2 separate regions of the Homo sapiens genome follow, and region 1 is linked to region 2. The links come from fine-mapping of genetic effects on gene expression. A gene starts in region 2. The other region holds a variant in brackets. All regions are shown on one strand. Distances are from middle to middle.

Region 1 (9,699 bases), 35 kb before region 2:
GGCTAGGGGAGAGGACAGATTGCTCTATGGCACAAGCAAACTTTTTGGATAGTGGAAACATTCTCTATATCATGGTAGTGGTGGTAATTACCTGACTTATACATGTTTGTTAAAGCACACCAAATTGTGTAAGTGACTAATCTTATTGTATGTTAAAACTGGCAAATCTTATTGTATTAACATACAATTATATCTCAGTTAAGTTGACATAAAAGTTGTTGAAAGCAAACTTACATTTTGACCTGGATTTTCCCCTTTCAGGAATCTATCTTGTTGAAGAGCTTGTACATGACCCCAAAGATTTTAAGTCCAAGGATGATTGCCACAGCATTGTTTGAAATAGTGAAACAAGACAATAGAACCACATATCCATTAGGGAGAGAATGGTTAGGTCTGTCTTTTAAATTTTTATTTGTTCGTTTGTTTACTGTATTTTTTGTAGAGTCAGAGTCTTGCCATGTTGCGCAGGCTGGTCTCCAACTCCTGAGCTCAAGCAATCCTCTCAGCCTTGGCAACATAGTGAGACCCCCCTCCTACAAAAAATAAATTATCCAGGTGTGGTGGCTGTAGTCTCAGCTACTCAAGAGGCTGTGGTGGGAGGATTGCTCAAGCCCAGGAGTTCAAGGCTGCAGTGAGCTATGATCCTAAGATCATGCCACTGCACTCCAGCCAGAGTGACAGAGAGAGACCCTATCTCTAAAAGAAAGAAAAAGAAAAGAAAATGGTTAATAAGCACAAAAAAATATGTTAAACATCACTGGTCATTATGGAGATGTAAATCAAAACCATAGAGAGATGATTTCATACCCACTAAAATCATTGTGATAAAAAAAAGACCAACAATAACAAGTGTTGGCAAGATGTGGAGAAATTGGCACCCTTATGTGTTTCTGGTGGGAATGTAAAATAGTGTAAATGCTTTGGAAAACAGTTTGGCAGTTCTTCAGTAAATTAAACATAAAATTACCATATGACCCAGAAATTCTACTTCTAGGTATATGTTCAAGAGAACTGAAAGCATCTGGTCATACAAACACTTGTACAAGAACATTCGTAGCAGCATTATTCATAATAGCCAAAAAGTACAAACAACCCAAATGTCCATGAATGGCTAAACAAAATGTAATGTACCCACACAATGGAGTATTATTTAGCCATAAACAGGAAGGAAGTACTGCTTCATGCTACAACATTGATGAACCTTGAAAACCCTGTGCTCAGTGAAAAAAGCATTCATATCACTGCACTTACGTTACATGTCCAGAATAGACAAGTCCATACAGACAGAAGTAGTTAGTGGTTGCCAAGGGCTGGTGGCGTGAGGAATGGGGCCTGACTGCTAATTGGTATGGGGTTTATTATTTGAGGAGTGATAAAAATGTTCCTGAGGAGATAGTGGCTATGCTTGCACAATTTTGTGAGTATACTAAAAATGACCGAATTGTACACTTTATTTATTTTGAGACACAGTCTCGCTCTGTTGCGAAAGCTGTAGTGCAGTGGCGCGATCATGGCTCACTGCAGCCTGGAACTCCTGGGGTCAAGTGATCCTGCCACCTCAGCCTCCCAAGTGGCTGACATTACAGGCAAATGCCATCATGCCTGGCTAACTTTTTTATTTTTAGTAGAGACAGAGTCTCACTCTGTTGCCCAGGCTGGTTTTGAACTCCTGACCTCAAGTGATCCTTCCGCCTCAACCTCCCAAAATGCTGGGATTCAAATGTGAGCCACCACACCTGGCTGAATTGTACACTTTAAAATAATGAATTGTGGTATGTTAATTACATCAATAAAATAGGTAAGGAAGTAACAAAGACAAAATAGAAATTAAGAAAATAGAGGACAGGCGCAATGGCTCACGCCTGTAATCCCAGCACTTTAGGAGCCTGAGGCAGGCGAATCATGAGATCAGGAGTTTGAGAAGAGCCTGGCCAACATGGTGAAACCCTGTCTCTACTAAAAATACAAAAAATTAGCTGGGCGTGGTGGGGGGGCACCTGTAATCCCATCTACTTGGAAGGCTGAGGCAGGAGAATCACTTGAATCTGGGAGGCAGAGGTTGCAGTGACCTGAGATCGCGCCATTGTACTCCAGCCTGGGCAACAATGCGAGACTCTGTCTAAAAAAAAAAAAAAGAAAAGAAAAAAGAAAATAGATAAAGCTAAAATAGAATACACAAAGTTGAAAGCTGGCTCTTTGAATAAACTAATAAGAATGACAAATCTCCAGAGAGACTGGTCAAGAAAATAAGGTTTGCACAAGCAGACAATATAATGAATGAAAACAGCAATAAACAGACACAGCAGAAATTTAAAAATAATGAGCATGCAGTAGGTGCAATTTTATGGCAATAAATTTGAAAATTTAGGAGAAATAGACAATTTCCTAGAAAATAAAAGATGCACTAAAACTGACCTAAGACACAACAGAAAACATGAATTGATAAGTATTTTAAAATTTTATTTTATTTTTGAGATGGAGTCTTGCTCTGCCGCCCAGGCTGGAGTACAGTGGCGTGACCTCGGCTCACTGTAACCTCCACCTCCTGGGTTCAAGCGATTCTCCTGCCTCAGCCTCCCAAGTAGCTGGGACTACAGGCGCCTGCCACCACACACAGCTAATTTTTTGTATTTTTAGTAGAGACAGGGTTTCACCATGTTGGCCAGGATGGTCACCATGTTGGCCAGGATGGTCTCCATCTCTTGACCTCGTGATCCACCCGCCTCGGCCTCCCAAAGTGCTGGGATTACAGGTGTGAGCCACCATGCCCAGGCTTTTTTTTTTTTTTTTTTTTGAGACAGTGTCTTGCTCTATCACCCAAGCTGCTGGAATGCAGTGGCATGATCAGGGCTCGCTGCAGCCTCAAACTCCTGGGTTCAAGTGATCTTCCCACCTCAGCCCTGCAGAGTAGCTGGGACTACAGGCATGCGCCACTGTGCCTGGCTAATTTTTGTATTTTTTGTAGATATGGGGTTTTGCCATGTTACCCTGGCTGGTCTCAAACTCCTTGGCTCACGCGATCCACCTGCCTTGGCCTTGCAAAGTGTTGAGATTACAGTCATGAGCTGCTGCGTTCGGCTTAAAAGTTTTTCAACATTTTTGACAACAACATCTGGATTCTCACATTCTCCCTCCATGAAAGAGAAAATGAGGAACTATTCTCTCTCTTCCATGGTGGAACACTCCAGGTACTCCCAGCCTGGAAGGCCAGACCCTCCAACTTTCCCTGAATGACCCCCTCACCAAGAAGTGTGCATTGAATGTGGGACTGACCACACATGAGGTCAGTTTGTTGGTCTATCTAGACTGCCTTTGGACTTCCCTTGCCTCTGATCTCATTCCTTTAATTAACAAACATTTACTGAGGGCCTACTGTGTTCAGGCCCCAGGCCAGGTTCTGAGGACATTGTGGAGAACAAAATACATTCCCTGACCTCATGGAGCTTTCAGTCTCATGGTAGAGAGATCCACAAGCTAATTGCAGGTTATTTGACTGTCTGCTGAATGAATGCATTAGTGGAAGAATGAATGAGTAAAAGCTACATTGTCCAAATTCCTGTCCTGTCAGAATTGATGTTGACGTTCTTTTTTTTTTTTTTTTTTGAGATGGTCACTTACTTTAACAACAGTACATATACCATGTTATCACCATGAAATGTAAATTCAGGTTAGACAAGAAAATTTCACAAATGTAATAACATTCTATAGTTTATAAAAGTTTGGGTATACTGTCTGGCCAAACCAGCTTGCTCATAAGTCATTAATCAATTCCATTATAGGTAATTTGATTAGTTTAATGTTTGTAATTCTTATGGAAAAAATAAGCAATGCACACATTTAAAAAGTGCTCATTGGGCTGGGCACGGTAGCTCATGCCCGTAATCCCAGCACTTTGAGTGGCTGAGGCCCAGCGGATCACGAGGTCAAGATCGAGACCATCCTGGACAACATGGCGAAACCCTGTCTTTATTAAAAATATAAAAATTAGCCAAGGATGGTGGTGTGCACCTGTAGTCCCAGCTACTCAGGAGGCTGAGACAGGAGAAGTGCTTGAACCCGGGAGATGGAGGTTGCAGTGAGCTGAGATCACACCACTGCACTCCAGCCTGGTGACAGAGCGTGACTCCGTCTCAAAAAAAATAAAATAAAAGGTGCTCATTTACCTTTGCATGAGTGCTTAAATACATATTTCTATCTCAAGATGACATTTAAAAATTATTCAGATATAACAGCAGCAAAAATATAATTCTGCAATTACAAAATAACTAAACTAGAATCCATAAGTTATTCTCATGTTCACAACTGTGATTCTTTAATAAATACCACTACTATGCAGCTATAATGTAAGCTTTCTAGATTTGGTTTAAACACACACACATAGATACTGTCAGTTGTGGGAAGCTTTACAAGTTTTATTCCATGCACTTTTTAGACAGAGTTCTGAAAGAGCCAGCCAGTCCACAAGACAGGCAGAAAAAAAGTTAAATTAACTAGGGCAAATAGGACTCTTATATAACATCCGAAACATGTGAGATCCTGCAGCAAACTGGGAGTACTTCAGGGTTGGCTTGTTATATCCTTTAGAACTTAAGTTCATCTTCACAATTGAAGAAGGTGGACATTTCAACACCATCTAGTGCATTTAGGTGACATGTTTCTTTTATGCTAACTTGATTTCCTTGAATGACCTAGTTAGTAAACTAGTCACTAGTAATTAAGTCACCAGGCAAATCAAGCCTGCAAGAAAGGAAGCCAATATTCAAAATGCTGTGTTACCATCTAAACCCACTCAAATAGTTTATTTTCCACAATAACACATAACTTCAATAATGAGATGTCTAACTAAAGCAAGCTCCTCCAACAAGACCAAGACAGCATCTCTTCTTCTAGGGCTTAGGTTTTGCCCAGAATTCTCGATACATGGAATAGCCCATACCAATAGTCATTGCTCCTACAACAAAGCCTTGGGCTGCCACACGCATGTGGATCAGATGAAGGGACATTTGCGTATTTCCCCTGCTCTTCAATTTGTATAATCCATATGTAACAAGTGCTGCAAAACCTGCTATTCCAACGGGTACCAATGGTGTCTCTTTAGCTTTACGAATAAGTTTGGATCCCTGAGCTTCGTCATATGAAGAAAGGGAAACATCTGTGTCTGTTGATATAATGACTGCTTGAAGAATCTCCCGGCTGGGCGCGGTGGCTCATTCCTGTAATCCCAGCACTTTGGGAGGCTGAAGCGGGCGGATCACGAGGTCAGGAGATCGAGACCACCCTGGCCAACATGGTGAAACCCCGTCTCCACTAAAAATACAAAAATTAGCTGGGCATGGTGGTGCCGGCCTGTAGTCCCAGCTACTTGGCAGGCTGAAGCAGGAGAATAGCTTGAACCCAGGATGTGGAGGTTGCAGTGAGCCGAGATTGCACCATTGCACTCCAGCCTGGGCGACAGAGCGAGACTCCATCT[C/CA]AAAAAAAAAAAAAGGAAGAAGAAGAAAACCTCTCACACCTGATGTCAACATTCTTTTAGTTAACATTTAACATGTTTTTCTTGAGTGCCAAGTATGTGACAGATTTAGAGCAAGGGTTTTTACAGGGCATACAATGTAACACCCTGTCTTTCCCTGACCAAGTTTAGTACCATCTGAAAAACAGACACATAGGATAGAGATAAAAATGTTACTTCTGTAACCAATAGAGTTGTTGAGAAAATGCATTTGAAGTCCCTGTACCCGTCCCAGAGCTGCACAGACTTACCCACTCTGCTCCCAAAGGTTTCTCCTTCTTTTGATGTAGGGTAGGCAAGCCCCCAAATTGGGGCTTAGCCCGGGAGGGTTCTTGGCTTTGTCCAGGAAATAATTCCAGGGTGAGCCAGTGCTGTTAGACAGACACTTTTAGTGAAGTGGCAGTGCACAGCAGCAGCAGATGTACTGTTCCTTGCACACCAGGGCTACCCCGAGTAGCAGCTCAGAGGTAGTTCTGCAGTCATATTTATACCCACTTTTAATTATATGCAAATTAAGGAGAAGATTATGCAGAAATTTCTAAAAATAAGGTGGTAACTTCTGAGTCGTTTGGTCATTAACACAGAAAGAGGCAGTAACTTCCAGGTGTTACCATGGCAATGGTAAACTGACATGGCACACTGGTGGGTGTGTCTTATGGAAAGCTGCCTCCACCCCATCCCTGTTTTAGCAAGTCCTCAATTTGGTCTGGTGTCCCAGCCCCACCTCCAGAATTGAGACCTGCCTCCTACCTCACTTTGGGTCCCATACATAGTTGCTTCTAACAACTTCACCAAGAAAACTCTCTTTTCTACTTCTTGGGAGGGGTGAGTGAGAGAAAGTGGGACAAGGCCACTTTTCTGCAGTGTTAGTTACTCCAGAAAAGGTCCACCATGTGGAAACAGATATAATGAGAAATAATCCTTAGTTTGTGTTAATCAAACCCAGTCAGTTATCCAACCAGTCAATTCCTCAATCCAAGCAGCATGAAACTGCACTCCTAGTTAGGTTTGTGGATTATAAATGCTCATAAATTCCTTATCCCGTCCCTCATGGAAAGGTGGGGTTTACTTCTCCACCCCCTTAATTCTGGACTTGGCCTATGACTTGCTTTGAACCAGTAGAATATGGTGGAAATGAAGCTGTGCCCAATTCTGGGCTTACCCTTTAAAACAGAACTGGCAGCTTCTGTTTTCTTCTCTTGGAATTCAGCCACCATGCTGTGAGGAAGCCCAAGCAGTCCTGTGGGGAGGCCCATGTAGAGGAGAATCAAAGCTCCATTCTCAGCCTTTTGGGTAAGATCAAGTGTAGTATCTGTTCTTATCAGTTTAATATCTGATATGTCCTCTATTCGAGGACACAATCTATATTAAATAGATTTTTGGAACTAAGAGATGGAATAGGAGCTTGCCCCACCCACTCCACACATTTACCTAGCATTGCAGTACCTCCAGGAACAGTGTACCCCTAAAGGGAGATAAAGTTTAAAAATGAAAAAAATAGGGAATAAAAAGCTCTAGCCCTACCATCCAATTGGCTGGGGGAATTTAAATAAATAAATAAATAAATAAATAAATAAATAAATAAATAGCTCTAGCCAGCATCAACTTGCCAGCCATTGGAGTGCACCATCTTTGAAGGGTCCTCCAGCTCCAAGGATGGAGCTGGAGGCACAAGAAGAGCTGTCTCAACCAGGCCTTGCCCAAATTGCATAATGGTAAGAAAATAAATGATTGGTATTGTCATAAGCCTCTAGGTTTGAGAGTGGCTTGTTTCACAGCCCTAATCTAATTTGACTCCCTGTTCTTGGCCCCAGACCCAGGGCCTGCCACAGAATAAGAACTCAGGGAGTGTTGAAGAAGTGAGTCAACAAATGATTGGGCTGAGCGTGGTGGCTCACGCCTGTAATCCCAGCACTTTGGGAGGCCGAGGCAGGTGGATCATCTGAGTGAGGTCAGGAGTTCAAGACCAGCCTGGCCAACAGGATGAAACCCCATATCTACTAGAAATATAAAAATTAGCCAGGTATGGTGATGCGTGCCTGTAATCCCAGCTACTCAGGAGGCTGAGGCAGAAGAATCACTTGAACCCAGGAAGTCGAGGTTGCAGTGAGCCAAGATAGCGCCACTGCACTCCAGCCTGGCTGACAGAGTTAGACTCTGTCTCAAAAAAAAAAAAAAAAAAAAAAAAAAAAAAAAAAAAAAAAAAAAAAAAAGACTGGATTGGCTAAGTGGATGATGGATGATTGAATGGTTGGATAAGTGAATTGTGTTAAGCCTGACAGGTCTAGAGTGATGAGCTGTGGCAGAATCAGGGGCTCAGAGTCCAGTAGCTTCAAGGAGGATGAGAAGCCATCTCTGCTGGAATTGTTATAAATAATTTCCTGGGAAGGGTCCCTGGCAGATCTACTTGGAGTGGCATTGTCACAGGCAGTGCATACTCAGCTGCTCAGGTGAGACACTAACTGCAAGCCCAGAATCTGGAAAGCTCCACAGTGCAGTGGGCCCAGCCTTACTATCCCTGCTGGAACCACACCAGCAGAAGGAGTGCCCGAGGGCTGCTACCTGTCTCCCTCGACTCCACTTAGTTCCAAATGTAAGTCTCACATGATTGAAACTGTGGAAGGAGGCTGGGTGCGGTTGCTCTCACCTATAATCCCTGCACTTTGGGAGGCCAAGGGGGCGGATCACCTGAAGTCGGGAGTTCAAGACCAGCCTGACCAACATGAAGAAACCCCATCTTTACTAAAAATAAAAAACTAGCCAGGCATGGTGGCACATGCCTGTAATCCCAGCTACTTGGGGGGCTGAGGCAGGAGAATCACTTGAACCCAGGAGACAGAGATTGCAGTGAGCCGAGATCACACCACTGCACCCCAGCCTGGGGAGCAAGAGTGAAACTCAGTCTTTTAAAAAAAAAAAAAAAACCAGAAGGAATATATGTAACTCAAGTTTTGTGTGGTTTTTTTTTTTTTTTTTTTTTTTTTTTTTTTTTTTTTTTTACCGTTCCAGCCTCTGTGGTCCAGGCAGCCAGCTGGGAGAAGGCTGAGACAGATGCTCAGTGACAAGTGTGAGCTTGCTAATCTGACAAAGGCCTTTCTAAGGGGGCATTTGGATTTCTGCATGATATGCTTCCAGCCTGCCTCCTAACCCCACCAAATCCTCATCATGCACTTTGTTATTTATTTATTTTTGAGACGGAGTCTCACTCTTGTCGACCACGCTAGAGTGCAGTGGTGTGATCTCGACTTACAACAACTTCCGCCTCCTGGGTTTAAGCAATTCTCCTGCCTCAGCCTCCTGAGTAGCTGGGATTACAGGCACCTGCCACCATGCCCAGTTAATTTTTGTATTTTTAGTAGAGATGGGATTTCATATGTTGGCCAGGCTGGTCTCGAACTCCTGACCTCAGGTGATCCACCCACCTCAGCCTCCCAAAGTCTGGGACTACAGGCATGAGCCACCTTACCCGGCCCTCATCATGCACTTTGTATTGTGGTCAAACTTAACTTGTCTCATTCCCCAAACTCTGCTTGCCTCTTCAGCCTAGCTATCTTCACTTTTGCTCAAACCTATATAAAGTAGCATGCTTTTCCCTTTCTTCTTTGTCTGGAAAATTCTTAGTGCACACCCTTACACATTTCCAGCATCAGCCATGAACCTGAGTGAGTCTCTCCCCACCACATGGTGCCTACAGCATTTGTCCCTGTGTGAACACAGCCCCTATGACCCTGCATTGTAATCACTTCTGTGTCTGTGACATCCTTCAGGGCAGGGCTGAGAATAATAAATGTTGGGCAGTTACAGTTTTAACCTTTATGTCAATCCTGAGTCAGGTACTATTATCATATCGGTTTCATAGATGAAGAAACTGAGGCTCAGAGAGATTAAGTAACTTGCCTGAGGTTTGCCCAACTAATAGGGAAAGACAAAGTCAAGATTTAAGCCCAGGTCGGGTGCGGTGCCTCACGCCTGTAATCCCGGCACTTTGAGAGGGCAAGGGTGGGGGGATCACCTGAGGTCGGGAGTTCGAGACCAGCCTGGGCAACATGGTGAAATCCCATCTCTACTAAAAATACAAAAATTAGCCAGGCATTGGGGGTGGGTGCCTGTAGTCCCAGCTACTCGGAAGGCTGAGGCATGAGAATTGCTTGAATCCAGGAGACGGAGGTTGCAGTGAGCCAAGACTGCGCTAC
Region 2 (9,699 bases):
TTCTAATTTTTTTATAGATGGGGTCTCATTATGTTGCCCAGGCTAGTCTCAAACTCCTAGCCTCAATCAATCCTCCTGTCTAGGCCTCCCAAAGTGTTAGGATTATAGGAATGAGCGACCACACCCAGAACATGATTTTTTATATATGTATATGGAGAAAAATACTCCTTTAAGATGTTAATTGTAAATGTTTTCTTCAGTCCATCATTTTGACATAACTGTATGGATTTTTAATGTAGTAAAAAATGCAATTTTATGACTTTTGGGTTTTGTGTCATAGTTAAAAAGACTGTTTCCACACTGAGATGATACAAAAAGTTTCTCCTTTAGCTCCTGGCTGTATTTTTTTTTTTTTTTTTTTGAGATGGAGTTTTGCTCTTGTTGCCCAGGCTGGAGTGCAATGGTGCGATCTCCACTCACCGCAACCTCCGCCTCCATCTCCCGGGTTCAAGCAATTCTTGTGCCTCAGTCTCCCAAGTAGCTGGGATTGCTGGTGTGTGCCACCATGCCCAGCTGATTTTTGTATATTTAGTAGAGATAGGGTTTCACGATGTTGGCCAGGCTGGTCTTGAACACCTGACCTCAAGTGATCCACCCACCTCAGCCTCCCAAAGTGCTAGGATTACAGGCATGAGCCACCGTGCCCAGCCAGCTTCTGGCTGTATTTTCGTTTTCATTTTTGTACGTTTAAATATTGAAGGTTAACATTTAATTTTTATTTTTATTTATTTATTTTTTTTGAGACGTTGTCTCACTCTGTCGCCGAGGCTGGAGTGCAGTGGCGCAATCTTGGCTCACTGCAAGCTCTGCCTCCTGGGTTCACGCCATTCTCCTGCCTCAGCCTCCCAAGTGGCTGGGACTACAGGCGCCCGCCACCACGCCCGGCTAATTCGTTTTGTATTTTTAGTAGAGATGGGGTTTCACCGTGTTAGCCAGGATGGTCTTGATCTCCTGACCTCGTGATCCACCTGCCTCAGCCTCCCAAAGTGCTGGGATTACAGGCATGAACCACCGCGCCTGGCCTATTTTTTATTGATTTTTTAGAGATGGAGTCTTGCTTTGTTGCCCAGGCTAGAGTGCAGCGGTGCTCACTGAGGCCTTGAACCCCTAGGCTCAAGAGAGCCTCCCACCTCAGGCTCCGAAAATGCTGGGATTACAGGTGGTGTGAGATACCACACCAGACCTAGAGTTTTTATTTTTTAATTTTTAAAAAAATTTTTATTTATTTTTTTGAGACGGAGTCTCACTCTTTTGCTCAGGCTGGAGTGAAGTGGTGCAATCTCGGCTCACTGCAACCTCCGCCCCCTGGGTTCAAACAATTCTCCTGCCTCAGCCTCCCGAGTAGCTGGGATTACAAACGCCTGCCACCCACCATGCCCAGCTTTTTTTTTTTTTTTTTTTGTATTTTTAGTAGAGACGAGGTTTCACCATATTGGCCGGGCTGGTCGTGAACTCCTGACCTCAGGTGATCCATCTACCTTGGCCTCCCAAAGTGCTAGGATTACAGGTGTTAGCCACCACACCCAGCCTTTTTAAATGTTTTTTTCATTAGGAACAACATATTCCAAACCTATAAATTGAGTTCATCTGTAATTTTTTCTAAGATACAAATTATGAATCCAACTTACTTTTTTTCCAGATTGCTCCCTTTTCTTCCTAATGTCTTTTATTAACTCATCTTTTCTCAACAGATTAGAAATGGTACTTTTATCATCTACTACATTCCTGCCTGTATTTGAATCTGTTTCTAAATTTCTCTGTCTTCTATTGATCTCTATGTGTCAGTAACCCTCTTTAATTATTACCTTTTAATGATAGATTTGTTGTGTTTTAATATCTGGTAGGATTAGTCTATACTCATTATGTCTTTTATTTTCAGAAGTTTCCTACTTGTTTAATTTGCCATATGACCTTTAAATCAGCTTTTCTAGTCCCTCCTTATCTCCCACCAGAAGACTCTTAAAATTTTTCATTGTGATACACTTAGAGATTAATTTAAGGAGAATTGACATCTATATGAAGCATCTTCATATGAAGACCAAGGTGTCAGCCCCCTTGCCTCTGCTTTTTGGTGGCTAGTGACTCCCAAATTTGTACCTCTATTTTGAGCACAAGGTCTGTTCCTCACCCCTAGGAATCTCCTCTTGGATAGGGGGATCCCAAAGATACCCCATACCCTGATCCCATACTGTCCCTCCAGCTTAGTGCATTCCCCCTTCTCTTTAATCTACTCAGGTGCTCAAGCCAGATCCAGGGTCTGAAGTTGTCTTTGGTCTCTCCTGGTGTCCAAGAGCCATATCTAACCAGTGACTAAGTTCTATTTTTTTTTTTTTTTTGAGACGGAGTTTTGCTCTTGTCGCCCAGGCTGGAGTGCAATGGTGTGATCTTGGCTCACTGCAACCTCCATCTCCTGGGTTCAAGTGATTCTCCTACCTCAGCCTCCCTAGTAGTGGGGACTACAGGAGCCCACCACCACGTCCAGCTAATTTTTGTATTTTTTAGTAGAGACAGGGTTTCGCCATATTGGCCAGGCTCGTCTCTCGAACTCCTGACCTTATGTGATCCGCCCACCTCAGCCTCCTAAAGTGCTGGGATTACAGGGGTGAGCCACTGCGCTCAGCCTGTGGTATATTTGTAATCACTGATGAACCAATATTGACACAATATTATTAATTCAAGTCCATAGTTTACATTAAGGTTCACTCTTAGTGTTGTACATTCTGCAGGTTTGGATAAATGCATGTCATGCATCCGTCATTACAGTATCATACAGAATAGTTTCGCTGTGCTAAAAATGCCCTGTGCTCCATCCCTCTCCTACCCCTCTGAATCCCTGGCAACTGCTGATCTTTTTACCATTGCTAGTTTTGCCTTTTCTAGAACGTCATATAGAGTTATTGGAATCATACAGTATGCAGCTTTTTAATACCAGCCTCTTTTACTTAGCAATATGCGTTTAAGGTTATGCTATGTCTTTTTGTAGCTTGATGGCTGATTTCTTTGTATCGCTAAATTTTAAAGAAATTGCCAAACTGTCTTCCAAAGTGGTGGTGATCATTTTACCCTCTCTTGGTGTATGACAGCTCCAGTTCTTCTATATCCTTGACAACATAACAACACTTGGTATGGTTGATCTTAACTTTTAGCCATTCTAGTAGGTGTTCTTTTAGAAGCAGTCCTTCTAGTGGCTTTAATTTGCATTTCCCTAAGAGTAATGCACTCAGTGTTTTTTAATGTGCCTATTTGCCATCCAGAGATCTTTTTGGATGAAGTGTCTGTTCAAATGTTTTGTCCATTTTTTGACAGGCGCGGTGGCTCACCCTGTAATCCCAGCACCTTGGGAGGCAGAGGCGTGCAGATCACTTGAGGTCAGGAGTTTGAGACCAGCTTGGCTAACATGGTGAAACCCTGTCTCTACTAAAAATACAAAAATTAGCCTGGTGTGGTGGCGGGCGCCTGTAATCCCAGCTACTGGGGAGGCTGAGGCAGGAGAATTGCTTGAACCCAGGAGGTGGAGGTTGCAGTGAGCCAGGATCGCGCCACTGCATTCCAACCTGGGTGATGGAGCGGGACTCCATCTCAAAAACAAAAACAAACACCAGAAAACAAACAAATGTTTTGTCCATTTTTATTGGATTTTTATTCAATTGTAAAAGTTCTTTATACAAGTCCTACATCAGATAGAATTTTTACAAATATTCGTCCTAGTCTATGGCTTATCTTTTCATTTTTAATAGTTTCGTGCATTTTGAGAAACAAAAGCGTTTTATTTTGATGAAGTTCAATTTATTGATTTCTTCTATCATTTACACTTTTTGTGTCATATTTAAGAAATCTGGCCAGGTGCCAAAGCTCACACCTGTAATCCCAGCACTTTGGGAGGCTCAGGCAGGAGGACTGCTTGAGCCCAGGAGTTCATGACCAGCCTGAGTAACACAGCAGGACCCCATTTCTACAAAAAATTTAAAAATTAGCTGTGTGTCGTGGCACGTGCCTGTAGTCTCAGCTACTCAGGAGGCTGAGGTGAGAGGATCTCTTGAGCCCAGGAGTTTAAAGTTACAGTGAGCTGTGATCAGGGCACTGCACTCCTGCCTGGTCAATGAAAGCAAGACCCTGCCTTTAGAAAAGAAAAAAGAAATCTTTTCAAACCCAATATTGTTAAGATTGTCTCCATTTTTAAAAAAAAAAGTTTTATGGTTTGGCCATTTATATTTAGGTGTGTAATCCAGTTTGAGTTAAATTTTGATGGTGTATCCTAAATAGTTATCAAATCCATCTACTTCTGCCTGCCACCTCTCTAGTTTAAACCACCCTTCTCTGTCCCTGGACACCTGCGCAGAAAGCCTAGGAGCTGGTTCCACCCATCACTCACCAGGTTAGGTATTTCAGGCAAGTCACACCCTCTCAGGCCTCAGTTTTCCTCTTTTGTTAACTGAGGGTGAAAGTGGGGTTAGATTAGATCAGCGGCTCTTAACTTTTGAGGGGTCGTGGGCCCTAGAGTCCTGGGAACGCTATGCAGTTTCCTCAGCAAAATGCTTGCATCCACAACATGCAAGACTGCAGCAGCTGCTGGGCTGGGGCTGCGAGACCAGCGAAAAGCCCTGACTTGGGGGGGTCTCGGGAGTCTCTGCAGTCTCCCCACCCACACCCCCGGCCTCCGCGCCGAATCCTGGCCCCCCAACTTCTTGCAGCCCGTGAAGCAGGATCTCAGGGTCCTGGGGGTGGGGAGAGGGGGCTGCCGTCCTGCTCGCAGCCTCTGCCGCCCTCTCCTGGGTAAGGTGACACATGGGCGCTTCCAGGTGGGTGGGCTGAGAGCCTGGGGGAGAGAACAGGGATGTCCACCTCTCTAAGTTTCCAGGTTCAAGAAACCCCAGAACGTTAGAGAAAGATGGGCTCCCACAATTGCCCAACCCCATCCCATAGGATGCACGCATGCGGAAAGTCGGGCCGAACGGGGCAGGGACTTACCCAAGGTCACGCAGCGAGCCCGGTCCCCCTGCGTTCCCCGGGGAGCGCTGAGCCGGGACGCGGCGGTGGGGTGGGGAAGGGGAGTGGCGCGGCCCTGCGGGGTGAGGCTGCCGTTTGCTGAGTGTCCGGCAGGGGTCTGCTCGCTGCCAGCCCGGCCCCTCCTCAGAGCAGCTGCCGCAGCCCGAGGTAATCTCGGCCCCGCGCCGGGGCTGGCTGGGAACGGCGGGAGCAGCTGCGGTCGCGCGGAGCGAGGGGAGCTGGGGACCGGGCGGGCCCGGGGCTGCGGGAGGCGGCGCCGCCGCACAATCGCCCCGGAATGCCCGCCAGGGCGCGCGTGGGGTGCGGCCGTCCGGCCCTGCAACTCGAGCTGCTGCCCCTGGTTAAAAATACCCCCTGCCCGGCCCTCCCCCTCCGTTCCCCGCGGTGCCCTTCCGCCGCGCCCCAGCCCCCCCATCCCCCCCCGCGCTGGCCCCTCCCCGGGGACTGCTCTGCCTTTTACTAATTTGTCCTCTCGCGGAATTGGCCCCCGGCCTGCGGAGGGAGGGGCGGGGAGACACCGTGAGTAAGAGATAGTCAGAGACCGTGCCGGAGAGATAAGGGAGAGCCGAGAGGAAGCGGGGTAGGAGCCCCAGGAGGAGGAGGAGGAGAAGGAGAGAGGGAGGGCGGAGGGCGGAGGGGCGGCGGGAGGAGGGCGGGGAGGAGCGCTCTTCCTGGTTGGGCCCTGCCCTGAGCTGCCACCGGGAAGCCAGCCTCAGGGACTGCAGCGACCCCCAAACACCCCTCCCCCAGGTAAGAAGCTGGGTAGCCGAGCCGGGATTCCTTGACCCTGGCCACTGCTCCTGGGCTGAGGGGCTGCCCCAGCACGGTCCCTTCTCGGGGGCCTCTGCGTTCCTGGAGCAGGGGTGGGGGCTGGCGGAGCGGCACAGCCCAGGCGCCTGTCCCAGCCTGGCTCACCGCTGTCCCCAGGGGCTGGGCTAGGGCCCACCAGCTCTGATATCGAGCCTGCTGCGGGGGCCTGAGGAGGGGGACCCCGACCGTCTGGGGTTTTCAGCCCACGGCAAGGGGCCGGTGCACCAGGAGCTTGGTTAGTTTGGGGAGGGGGTTGCAGGCCTGTGAACAGGATCAAAGAGGCCTTCCCTGCTGTGTCCCACCTGCCCAGTTCCTTGTGCTGTCTGGAGGCTCCGCCCTGCCCCACCTGACCTGCTGGCTCACTACAGAGCTGCAAGCCCCTGACAATGGGATCCGGGAAAGGAGAGGTGGCCGGCACGCCTGGGAACTGGGAAATCCCTTTCCTGGATTCACTGGGAGCACCGGGAGGTGGCTGAGAACCCTACTTCTGTGAGGGGAGCAGTGAGGCAGGGAAACCCTAGGTTTGGGGATGGATAAGCAGGGGCAGGAGAGCAGAGCTTGCAGGCAGGAGCCCAGGTTCTAGTCTTGGGAAGGCCTGGGTTCTGAGCAGGCCCATCTGTCCGGCAGGATGTCGGAGGAGATCATCACGCCGGTGTACTGCACTGGGGTGTCAGCCCAAGTGCAGAAGCAGCGGGCCAGGGAGCTGGGCCTGGGCCGCCATGAGAATGCCATCAAGTACCTGGGCCAGGATTATGAGCAGCTGCGGGTGCGATGCCTGCAGAGTGGGACCCTCTTCCGTGATGAGGCCTTCCCCCCGGTACCCCAGAGCCTGGGTTACAAGGACCTGGGTCCCAATTCCTCCAAGACCTATGGCATCAAGTGGAAGCGTCCCACGGTGAGAGGGGCCATCCTGGGTGGGACTCGGCTAAGCCAGATCCTGGATGAGGAGTAGGGATGGGACTCCATGTCCCTGGTGGGGAATGGGGTCTGGGGTGGCCTGGTGCCAATTTCTGGGAGGGGCTGGCCGAGGAACAGGACTCTGGGTCTCTCGTAGGAACTGCTGTCAAACCCCCAGTTCATTGTGGATGGAGCTACCCGCACAGACATCTGCCAGGGAGCACTGGGTAGGCCCCCAGGGCGTCGGGTCCCGGGTATTTTTTCCACAGTAGTTCCCCATTCCCGCTCCTTCAGGCTCTGCCCCAACCCCTCCCTCTTGCAAGCCCAGGCAGGATCTGGCTATCAGCGCTGGGGCTGGTTTGCCCAGATTCCTGGGTCTTTTCTGCAAGCTGAGGGGAGTTAAGTGGCACCCTGGCCAAGGAACCCCAGATTCTCCCTAGCACCCGCTTCCCCCCCCGGGGCAGGTTGGTAGAGCAGGCTAATGTGCATCCCTCCTGCCCCAGGGGACTGCTGGCTCTTGGCGGCCATCGCCTCCCTCACTCTCAACGACACCCTCCTGCACCGAGTGGTTCCGCACGGCCAGAGCTTCCAGAATGGCTATGCCGGCATCTTCCATTTCCAGGTGAGGGCTCCCCTGGGGAGGAGGGGCAGCAGGCACTGGGGGAGATGCGGAAGGATGACCCACAATACCTGCAGTTAGGGCCACACCCTGTGGGGCCAGCCCTCCCTCTAGCAGGTATTTGACCTCTCAGTGCCATCTCGGGTCTGTCATGTGTGAAGTGACTGGGCTGGGCAGGTATTTCGGCTGGCAGTTTTCCTAGGTGGTTGTATGTATCAGGTGGAAAGTGCTTGAAAGAACAGAAAGACTTTTGTGTTATATCCTGTGGGACAAATTCCACTCCTCCCGGAGGTCGGTCTCAGTTGCCCCATCTGAGAAAGGAGTGTTCGCTGGGGAAAACAGATCAGCACGTGTGGCCTTCTCCACGTGTCAAGCCTCCTATCCCCCAACTCCTCCTGCGCTTTGGCAAGGTCTGACTGAGCCCAGCAGAAAAGAAAGACTCGGGATTAAGTCTACGTAAACCAGCTTTTCCTGACGGTGTGCCCAGGGCCCATTTTTCAAGTCACACCAATCAATTCTCAATGAGCTGCCTTTGGGAGGGACATGCCCAGCAACCCTGGATGAGACTCTCCAGCCTTGGAGGCCCCAGCCCTGCCCGAAGGACTCTTGGGTGTTCCCTCCTTCTGCCTGGTTAGAGAGCCCCTTACCCTACTCTGTCCTTGCCCGCCTTGCGCGGGTGGAGGTGGCCCTCGGAACCCAGGGTGCGGAACCCACAGTGCGGATCCACTTTGGCCCAGCGCCACACCCACCTGCTCCAGTCTGCAGGGGCGCAGTCTCGCCCCCTTCCCTCGCTCCTCCAATCCGCTCCTCCCTGGCCTCCGATTGGCCAGTTCAGTACCCGCCACCCACACTCTCCGCAACCTGGGCTCCTAGGGCCGCCTCCACCCCGCCCCGCCCCCCGTTGTCCTGGCCCCGACCCCTCAGATGGTACCTCGAGTCCTTGGTCGCTTCTGACCCCAGACGCCTTCGGCCCCGACCCTGCCCTGGGAAACGTGGCCTTTGTGGCATCTCAGAAACAAAGCCCGTGATTGTGAGAACCAGTCCTGCCCATCTTGTGGTTGTAGGATCTGGATGCCACATTTTCACTGCTCATCCAATGACACAGGTGCCCCTAACCCCCTTGAATAGGGAGGGAAGAGCCAGGGGGCCATGGCCTAAAAGGGGGCTAGTTCCGGAAAGCCCAGGCCCCAGAGCTTTTCCACCTCTCCGTGCCTGAGGAGGAACCCTGTTTGTTCAGTGACTCCCTAAAGGCTTTGCCTGTGCTCTTGTTTAAGTCTTCCGTGAAGAAGGCACCGCTGCTCCTTTTTATGGATAGGGAAACTGAGGCTCAGAGGCGATAACTTTTCCAGGATCATGTAGCTAGTATGTCTCGAGCATACATGTACATATCAAGTATACACATGTCTATATGTGGTATGCATGTATTAGTATACAGCAAATATGCAGGTATCTAGTATACATTGTACAGGCAAAGGAAAGCATCCCCTTAGCCCTCTGAAGGTTCACTGAAAAATCAACTCACAAAAGGAGGTTAGTAGGAGAAATGGCATACAAATTGATTAGCCTGCAGCGTGGGGTCGGGAACCACAGAGTGTTCACCCCAGCCCCACAATGGGTACAGAAGCCTATATACCATCCTGAGGTTACAGGAAGAATGGGGGCTCGAACATGGCCAAAACCAGTTTCTGGTGGTAAATCAGGTTATAGTGGCAAGACAGACTATGGAAGGGGGAGAAAAGGGGGCCTGGGTAGCAAAGGCAGTCTTGTTATGTAGATGAAACCTCACAGGTAGCAGCCCTCAGAGGGAATAGATGGTAATTGTTTCGTTCAGACCTTTAAAGGGTGTCAGGCTCTCAGTCTGACAAGGGAAGGCCTTAGAGAAAGCCTGGCTACATCAATGCAGATTTTCTCTACAGATGCAAATCTCCCCCACAAAAGACAGTATTACAGGGCTACTTCTGTTTGCAGACCCTCTGAACAGCTATCTCAAAATATGTTGAAGAAGTATATTTCAGGGTGAAATACTTTGATTTCCTTCAATACCTAGATACATGTATCTAGTATATCTGTAGCATACATGTATCTAGAGGTACACATGCATCTAGTATGTATCTAGTATATGTGATTTAGTATACATGCATCTACTATGTATCTGGTATACCTGACCTAGTATACATCTAGTATGTATCTAATTTACATGATTTAGTCTATGTGTATCTAGTATGTATCTGGGATGTAGAATCCTGCATCTAGGAAGGTAGGGGTAAGGATGGAGCTCAGGTCCGGGGGATTCCAAAGCAGGTACTCACCGTGCCCCTCCCCCACAGCTGTGGCAATTTGGGGAGTGGGTGGACGTGGTCGTGGAT

The links. PIP is the estimated chance that this variant, and not a neighbour inherited with it, causes the effect.
Region 1: its variant is fine-mapped to the expression of CAPN1-AS1 in platelets (CEDAR, PIP 0.95).

Annotation. Positions count from the first base shown.
Region 1 is chr11:65,140,805-65,150,503 of GRCh38, forward strand. It overlaps the pseudogene HIGD1AP10 and the pseudogene RNU2-23P. Among named protein-coding and RNA genes, the nearest start is that of SYVN1, 11 kb to the left of the region's middle. The variant C/CA (reference allele first, on the strand shown) is at 5,471.
Region 2 is chr11:65,176,257-65,185,955 of GRCh38, forward strand. It overlaps CAPN1-AS1 (CAPN1 antisense RNA 1), which reads right to left and starts at 5,578. Exons shown (of 2, transcript NR_145677.1): 1 at 4,969-5,578; 2 at 3,615-4,816. It overlaps CAPN1 (calpain 1), which reads left to right and starts at 5,672. Exons shown (of 22, transcript NM_005186.4): 1 at 5,672-5,757; 2 at 6,445-6,712; 3 at 6,872-6,941; 4 at 7,218-7,336; 5 at 9,661-9,699. The coding sequence starts at 6,446. RefSeq lists silencers at 4,991-5,440, 6,042-6,336 and enhancers at 5,359-6,148, 6,149-6,937, 6,938-7,727, 8,911-9,477.